2 separate regions of the Homo sapiens genome follow, and region 2 is linked to region 1. The links come from fine-mapping of genetic effects on gene expression. A gene starts in region 1. The other region holds a variant in brackets. All regions are shown on one strand. Distances are between the middles of the regions. Region 1 holds the start of LINC02296 (long intergenic non-protein coding RNA 2296). Region 2 has its middle 85 kb from the start of LINC02330.

What was found. PIP is the estimated chance that this variant, and not a neighbour inherited with it, causes the effect. A credible set is the group of variants that fine-mapping cannot tell apart.
Region 2: its variant is the best candidate, but not a certain one, in a credible set for the expression of LINC02296 in subcutaneous fat (GTEx, PIP 0.63).

What each region holds. Positions count from the first base shown.
Region 1 is chr14:87,610,943-87,615,345 of GRCh38, forward strand. It overlaps LINC02296 (long intergenic non-protein coding RNA 2296), which reads right to left and starts at 2,521. Exons shown (of 16, transcript XR_007064294.1): 1 at 2,373-2,521.
Region 2 is chr14:87,738,567-87,742,969 of GRCh38, forward strand. No RefSeq gene overlaps it. Among named protein-coding and RNA genes, the nearest start is that of LINC02330, 85 kb to the left of the region's middle. The variant G/A (reference allele first, on the strand shown) is at 2,105.

The DNA.
Region 1 (4,403 bases):
TTAAAATTTTCTTATAAAGTTGCAAACTTTCATCCTTTCTCTTGATGGAAGCACTTCCTGGCTTCTCTTTGGCAATTCTGAATTACCGACATCACTCGTCTTGCACTTTGAGGCCCCTTATTAAATATAAAGGTGACTTGAGGCCGGACGCAGTGGCTCATGCCTGTAATCCCAGCACTTTGGGAGGCCGAGGCAGGTAGATCACGAGGTCAGGAGATCGAGATCATCCTGGCCAACATGGTGAAACCCCGTCTCTACTAAAATACAAAAAATTAGCTGGGTGTGGTGGCACACACTGGGGAGGCTGAGGCAGGGGAATCACTTGAACCCGGGAAGCGGATGTTGCAGTGAGCTGAGAGCACACCACTGCGCTCCAGCCTGGGCGACAGAGTGAGACTCCATCTCAAAAAAAAAAAAAAAAGTGATTTGAACAGAAGCACTACAGTACAGCGACAGTTGATCTGATCACTGAGACAGCTACTGTGTGACTCACAGGTGGTGGAATAAGCCATGTGGAGATGGCAGACAAAGGGGGGATTCACATCCTGGGCAGGATGGAGTCGGACGATGCAAGACTTCATCATGCTTCTCGGAAGGGCACTGAGTTTAAAACTTATGAATTGTGTGTTTCTGGAATTTTCCATTTAATATTTCTGGACCATGGTTGACCGCAGGTAGCTGAAATAGCGCAAAGTGAAACGAGAGACACTACTGTATAGAAAAGACCCAACAGCGAAATGTAACGTGAGATACTAGGCTAAATCGCAGACCAGAAAAAGGGAACCATATTTGTGGGGAGATCAGTGAAATACAAATAAAGTCCATGGATTCATTAACACTATTGTAACCACATCAATATCCTGATGCTAGTGATTATACAATGGTTATGTCATTTGTCAGCATTAGAGAAGGCAGGTGAAGCATGTTTGGGAACTCTGTACTATTTTTGTGACTTTCCTCTAAGTATAAATTTATCCCCCACTCCAAAAAAAAAAGGTCATACGGAATTCTAAAAATTGTGTCATGGAATAAAGCAAAAGTAGGTTTATTTTCAATTAAATAACAAAGGACTGTCTTTTATCATTACATGCAATGAAAATTAAATGTACAGGTGATGGGCTCCAGGGCAAGGAGGACAGAATCTCTCTCTCTCTCTCTCTCACACACACACACACACACACACACACACACACTTCTGCTAAGAAACACAAAGCAATAAAACAGCCAACAGGTTGTTGACCTAAGCACTGAGTAAGCCTAAGCACAGGGACGGTATAACTAATATACTTTGGGTCCAGAAGAGACAGAATGACTTACATATAGAAATGGCTGGTATTATTTATCTTGATCTAAAGCAAATGAATTATGCTATAAATAAACACCAAAAAATGCTGGCCAGGCACAGTGGCTCACGCCTGTAATCCCAGCACGTTGGAAGGCTGAGATAGGTGGATCACCTGAGGTTAGGAGTTCGAGACCAGCCTGGCCAACATGGTGAAACCCCGTCGCTACTAAAAATGCAAAAATTATCCAGGTGTGGTGGCACGCTCCTGTAATCCCAGCTACTTGGGAGACTGAAGCAGGAGAATCCCTTGAACATGGGAGGCGGAGGTTGCAGTGAGCCGAGAATGGGCCACTGCATTCCAGCCTAGACAACAGAGCAAGACTCCATCTTAAAAAAAATACAAGAAAGATAGAAACACATAAAACTGCAACTTTTTAAAAACGCTTTACATCCATGAGCATTTACTCTATTATGTTTCCATTACATTTTGCCCCTTGAGAAAATTAGAACAGCAAATGCCCTCCACACAGAACATTTCCCACCACTACAGCCACCTTCTTCAAGCATGAGGAGAAAGTGTTGCTCTATAAAACCCAATTCTCTATGAATGGCTGTCATACGAAACTGAGAAAATGGAGTGAGACAGATTCCAAAAAGATTAATGACAAGCACAATCAGCATTAATTATTGTGAGTTAAGTTTCATTTCCTGGAAATAATCACAGTGATGGAATATTTCCATTGAATTAGTTACTGCCATTGGGATTGACTTGGCTGAGTGAATTCCAAATTATATTTCTCTATACTTTTAATATGGAACAGAAAAATGAAAGAATTTTACAGTGTACATGACTTAGATTTCACCATTAACATTTTTAGCTTATCAATTATCTAACCATTTACTCTACTGTCTATACATCCATCCATCTTATTTCTGATGCATTTCAAAGTTAACTCTATACATCCATATACTTTCCCCTAAACATTCTAGGATGCATCTCATTATCTAGTAAATTCCAACATAACCCCCCTACTTTATGGGTCTATTGACTGCAATGCAGTTAGCAGCTATTGAATTTTATCCTCACCTCTGCTTCCGACCTTGAATGTAAAGGCAGCCTGATCCACAAAGACGGTCATATCGGAAGTCCTGAAATCTCAGTACTGGTCCCCAACTGCTGTGCCAGACAGACCCTTCACTTCTAGTCATTTAGAATCACTATGATGCAAGAACCCACTCACCTACATACTCTAAGGTGGGTGGAGAGAACAGGAGACTGGTTATTTTTTCATAGGCATGGACAGTGCCTGTACATCTATATATAGGACATGATTAATATGAAATTAATTCAATATTGACAGGACATTGTGGTGAGGTAAGAACATTTAATCTGTAAGAGTCTGTTCAAATTTGTATATGTATATGACTATTTCTTAGGAGAGTTTCGTAGCTTACATATTTTCAAATACATCAGTGACTAAAGATATTGAGAGCCACTGGTCTAACACTTCCCTCCTTCAGACAGTGGGCATTAGTAATTCCAGATTGCGTTATCTCTTTTGCCTGCCACATCCCACCATTGACTTATATTTAGCGTACTTCAACCAAAGCCCCAATTTATTTTCCCCACACTATACTTTTACTGTAGATCTTTTTTGTTTACTTGTCTATCCTGGTGATTAGTGAGTAACTTTGTCCATTAAGCCAACTTGGATGCATCATTAACCAGAAAAAAGAGAAAACAGGTAGTGAAAAGTCAATAGTTTGTGATATTTACGACACCCCTCAGAGTGTGAACAAAAGAAATATGGTTCTGGCATTGTGACTCCAGTCTTAACCCTATGAGTCATTATTTGGAAAACTAGTGAGTTACATCTTCCAGTTACCTTTCTGTGCAGAAAAATCCCTCAGGAAGTAATAAATACAGGAAAGCATCTTGGATTCATCCAGCCCCCTACTGTGTCGGCTGTTATGATCCTGAATTGTAGACCATTTCTTCCACACTGCCTGGATCTCCCATAGAATCCAGCACAATACTGTGTCCAGAGCAGGGGCTCAGTAAGCTCTTATTTTACTGGAATATCCAACCAAGGGCCAGTTTGGAATTTACCTATATTACAGAAATATTAACCTTCTTGAAGACCAACATTTTGGGAACAGCAAGACCCTAAAAACTTCTAATTAAAATAAAGTTGCCCAATTAAAGTGACCTTTGGCTGAAAGGTAATGAAACCATATTTTCTAATTTCATTGTTCCAAACCAGCCTCTCCTACTTTCAGAAGGAACATCACTTTTAGGCAGGGGGGTTCTTCCTTTCAACTTTTATTTTAAGTTCAGGGGTACAAATGCAGGTTTGTTACATAGGTAAGCTTGTGTCATGGGGGTTTGTTGTAAAGATTATTTCATCACCCAGGTATCAAGCCTAGTACCCAGTAGTTACTTTTCCTGATCTTGTCCCTCCTCTCACCCTTCACCCTCTGAAAGGCCCCAATGTCTGTTGTTCCCGTCTTTGTGTCTATGTGTTCTCATCAGTTAGCTCCCACTTATGAGAACATGCGGTATTTGGTTTTCTGTTCTGTGTTAATTTCCTAAGGATAATGGCTACCAGCTCCACCCATGTACCCACAAAGGACACGATCTCATTCATTTCTTACGGCTGCATAATATTCCATGGTCCACATTTTCTTTATCTGGTCTGTCATTGGCAGGCATTTAGATAGATTCCATGTCTTTGCTATTGTGAATAGTTTGGCAATGAACATACGCATGCATGTGTCTTTATAACAGAATGATTTATATTCCTCTGGGTATATATCCAGTAATGGGATTGCTGGGTTAATGGTATTTCTGTCTTCTTTAGGTTTTTTAGGAATCGCCACACTGTCTTCCACAATGGCTGAACTAATAAGCATCCTTTTCTCACCACAACCTCACCAGCATCTGTTATTTTTTGACTTTGTAATAATAGCCATCTGACTAGTGTTAGATGCTATCTCATTGTGGTTTTAATTTGCATTTCTCTAATGATCAGTGATGTTCGGCTTTTTTCATATGATTGTTGGCTGCATGCATATCTTCTTTTGTAAAGTGTCTATTTTTTTGCTCACTTCCTTATGG
Region 2 (4,403 bases), 130 kb after region 1:
AAGAAATTCCAAAACACCAAGCATTCACTTCATGTAGTACGAAGATGAGTCTTTGGGAAAATTATGACTAGAAAATTGTTTGGCAGTTTGGAGACAAGAGTTAAAAGGCAAGTCTTGGCCTTTACAACTCAAGCATCCATTAAGCTGCCCCTCACCTTCTGTTTAAATCAATGGGCCACAGGTAAAATGGATCCCTCTCAGACTTATGAATAGAGGTAGTGTGATTTTAGGTGTCAACTTGACTGGATTATGCAAAACCTAGAGAGCTGGCAAAGCATTATTTCTGAGTGTGCCTGTGAGGATGTTTCTAGAGGAGATTGGCATGTGAGCTGGTAGACTGAGTGGGAAAGATCTGCTCTCAGTGTGGACAGGCATCCAATCATCTGGGGGCCCAGTTAGAACAAACAGGCAGAGGAATGGTGAGTTCCTTCTTTCTCTCTCCTGGAGCTAGAACATCCTTCTTCTCTTGCCCTTGGACATCAGAACTCCAGGCTCTCTGGCCTTTTGCCTGTAGAACTTGCACCAAGGGCCTCCCCATGTTCTCAGGCCTTCAGCCTCAGACTGAGGGTTACATCATCAGCTTCCCTGGTTCTGAGGCTTTCAGACTTAGACTGAGCCATGCTGCAGGCATGCCGGACTCTCCAGCTTGCAAATGGCTTATCATAGGTGATATGATTTGGCTGTGTCCCCACCCAAATCTCATCTTGAACTGTAACTCCCACAATTCTCACCTGTCATGGGAAGAACCTGGTGGGAGGTGATTGAATTATGGGGGCGGGTGGTTCCTGAGCTGTTCTCATAATAGTGAGTGAATCTCACAAGATCTGATGATTTTAAAAATAGAAGTTTCTCTGCACAAGCTCTCTCTTTGCCTGCTGCCATACACATAAGATGGGACTTGCCCCTCCTTGCCTTCCACCATGATTGTGAGGCCTTTCCAGCCACATGGAACTCGGAGTCCAATTAAGCCTCTTTCTTTTGTAAATTTTCAAGTCTCGGGTATGTCTTTATCAGCAGTGTAAAAGCAGATGAATACAGTAGGGCTTCTCAGCCTCCATAATTGCATGAGCCAATTCCCCTAGTAAGCCTCTTATCTATCTATTATCCATCTATCTATCTATCTATCTATCTATCTATCTATCTATCTATCTACCTATCTATATCGATCCATATCCCATTGACACTGTCTCTCTGGAGAGCCCTGACTAATAGAGAGAGTAAAAATAGGAAAGGCTTGGTGGAGGGCCAGCCCCATGGGATTTGTATCTGTTGAGAAGTCAGGAAGGAGCTCGAGTTGATTCAGATAAGCTCATGGGTATGATGGACATTTTCTTTCCCACAACCTCCTGAAAATATGGAGAGTCCTGTCCTAGTTTTGGGGAATGACTTTGTGAGGAAAAACAACAAAAGGGGCTGGGATAGCCACACAGAATAGTCAGATTTAATGGTTAATGGCTCATGAGTGAGTGCTGATGACAGGATGAGGAGGTGGGCTAGAAGATCAACTGAGGCAGTTCTCAACTTGGTGGGGCAAGAAATGAAATACAGTGAAAATCAGGTGATCCACAAGCGGTGACTTTTCTCCCCTGGGTTCCCCAGCACTAGAAACAGGCTGGGAAGGGAGACTAGGGGGTTCCTGGCCAGGGGCTTTACTCCTGTCCACACAGTCCCTGCACATGGGATTCATTCCCTCATCGCAGGAGCCACCAGCCCCCCATCTTTATCATATTCTCTGTATCATCTCTTTACCCTTCTCCCTCTCCAAGCCCAAAACTTTAACCCAGGGGATGAGAACCAATCATTCTTCATGATGTACTTTTCCAAATCCTTCAGTTTTCCTCATATTTGAAAAGCTAAAAATCTGACCCTTTTGTTCTGTGGGTTCACTGTAACCGTCCCCTCGTCCCCCACACCCCAGATGATGGCACCTGTCATCAGACAGCCTGTTGGAGACTCATGGGACAACAAGAGACAATAGATAGAAATTATCCAACAGTTTGGGTAAATAAGTATGCTTCGTAATTAAGCAGCAAACCAATATACTGAGATGTGAATATAAAATAAATAGGAAAAACTAACAAAATAAAGATGTAGGCCCGGTGCG[G/A]TGGCTCCCGCCTACTGTAATCCCAGCACTTTGGGAGGCTGAGGTGGGCAGATCACAAAGTCAGGAGATCGAGACCATCCTGACCAACATGGTGAAACCCCGTCTCTACTAAAAAAATACAAAAAAATAGCCAGGTGTGATGGCACGTGCCTGTAGTCCCAGCTACTTGGGCGGCTGAGGCAGAGGAAACACTTGAACCTGGGAGGCAGAGGTTGCAGTGAGTCGAGATCGCGCCACTGCACTCCAGCCTGGCAACAGAGCAAGACTCAGTCTCAAAAAAAAAAAAAAAAAAAAAAAGTAGAACAGAGGTCGGCAAGCTTTTTTTATAAATTACCAGATAATAAATAGCTTGGGCTCTTCAGGTGATGAAGCAAAATCCAAAATACATACATACATAACAAGAAAGAACACATTTTAATTAGATTTTTATTAACAAAATTCAAAGTATAATAACAACTGATAAGTATAAATTTTTGTAATACAGGTCTACTAATGAGAAAAACGGGATTCTTTGTTTTGGGGATAACCTTTCACTTGACTTGGGACTCAAAGTTTGTGTTCCTTATGATCAGATCAATTGCAAATGTTCATCAATAAGGACTATTTTTAGCTTATTTGCTGTGCAAAACAAGCAGCAGGCCAGACTTGGCCCACAGGTCGATAGGCTGTAGTTTACCAATCCCTGGTTTAAAATGATAATGGTACGGAAAAAATTGTGTTTCAATGGAAAATCATTTATTGTCTAGATAACCCATGCAATTATCTGATTCTCAACTTTTATTATTTTTGAGATATTTGATAACTCTGTAACTTACAGGTAAGAGATAGACATGCAAATTCTGTCTAGTCTGGTAGAGGTTTGACTTCTCTCACTCCCTCTGTGAAGAAAAAAAAAAAAAAACAGTTTTGTTTCAACATTTCTTACTCCATGTAAATTTGTGCTGCTTGGCCTTCTTTATTTGAACTGGTAATTATCTCTGCCTGATCCTTCATGAATCAAATCTCTAGTATGTGTTCATTTCTACATCTGTATGACAGTCAAGATTATTTTTCCAAAAGTATCTTTTAGCATTGGTAAGAAGGTATGACCATGTATTCAAAGATAGAACCATTTAAGCCAAGTGTGCTAGTGTTCTATGCAGCCATAACAAATCACCACAAACTTAGTGGCTTAACACAGCAGAAGACCAACATGAGTCTCATGGGGCTGGAATCAAGGTGTCTGCACAGCTGAGGCCTTCTGGAAGCTCCAGGAGAGCCAATATTCCTTGGCTTGGGGCCTCATCACTCCAGTCTCTGCTTTCATCATCACAGTGTTTTCACCTCTCACTCTGACTCCTCCTGCCTGCCTTTTACAATGACTGTTGTGATTACATAGAGCTCACCCAAATAACCTAGGATAATCTCCCCATTTCAAGAATCTTAACTAAATCACATCTACACAGTACTTTCTGCCATGTAAGGTAACATTCACAGGTTCTAGGGCCATGGACATATTTGGGAGCCCATTTTTAAGGCTAGCATATTAAGAAAAAGCAGGAACTAGAAAATTAAAAGGCTGAGAAAATACAAAAAAATTTTGTAGGGCTCTTCATCTAAGGCTTTTTTTAAGTTGTAAATAAAGGAATTATCAAACAAATTATAATATATATCTATAACTGAAATATTAAGACAGTTATAACAAACGGTTTGTATTGCATATTGACAATACATTTCATGGCAGAGAAAAATTTTTAAGATACTGTAAATAACAAAAGCAATATAAACAGTGTCACTCCACTTGTGTACATTGAAAAAAGAATATTATACATTAGAATTTGTGGCTAAATGGATTCAAGGCGTACCACAAACTGCTATGATGTGTGGTTATCTCTGGAGGGGAATGTGGGATCAAGCAGGGGCATGAAGGGGAACTTTCACTTTGTATTTATGTACTTGGGAATTATTTTGAATGTTTATAATATTGTATTTTACATTGCATATAATTGTTTTTTAATCACAGTAATGAAAATGTTAAGGACAAACCAGAAGGGGCAAAAATCCCTTCCCTTCCTCTTACAACAGTCCTTTTCTGGCCCCTCTAAGAAGCTAAGTGCATTAGTGAGCAAAGAAATGATCGTATCATGCTGGGACGAAATGGAAGAGGAAGGACAAGCACAGGTGAGTGGTCTCTCACCAGAGGTGAGCACATGTTTGCTCAGCTATTGGGCTACAAAAAAAACTGCTGTAATCCACAGGTAGGAGGCCCCTTGTTAAGTCCCATTCCTCTGAACTTTTTTCTTCTGCAGGCAAACTCTGA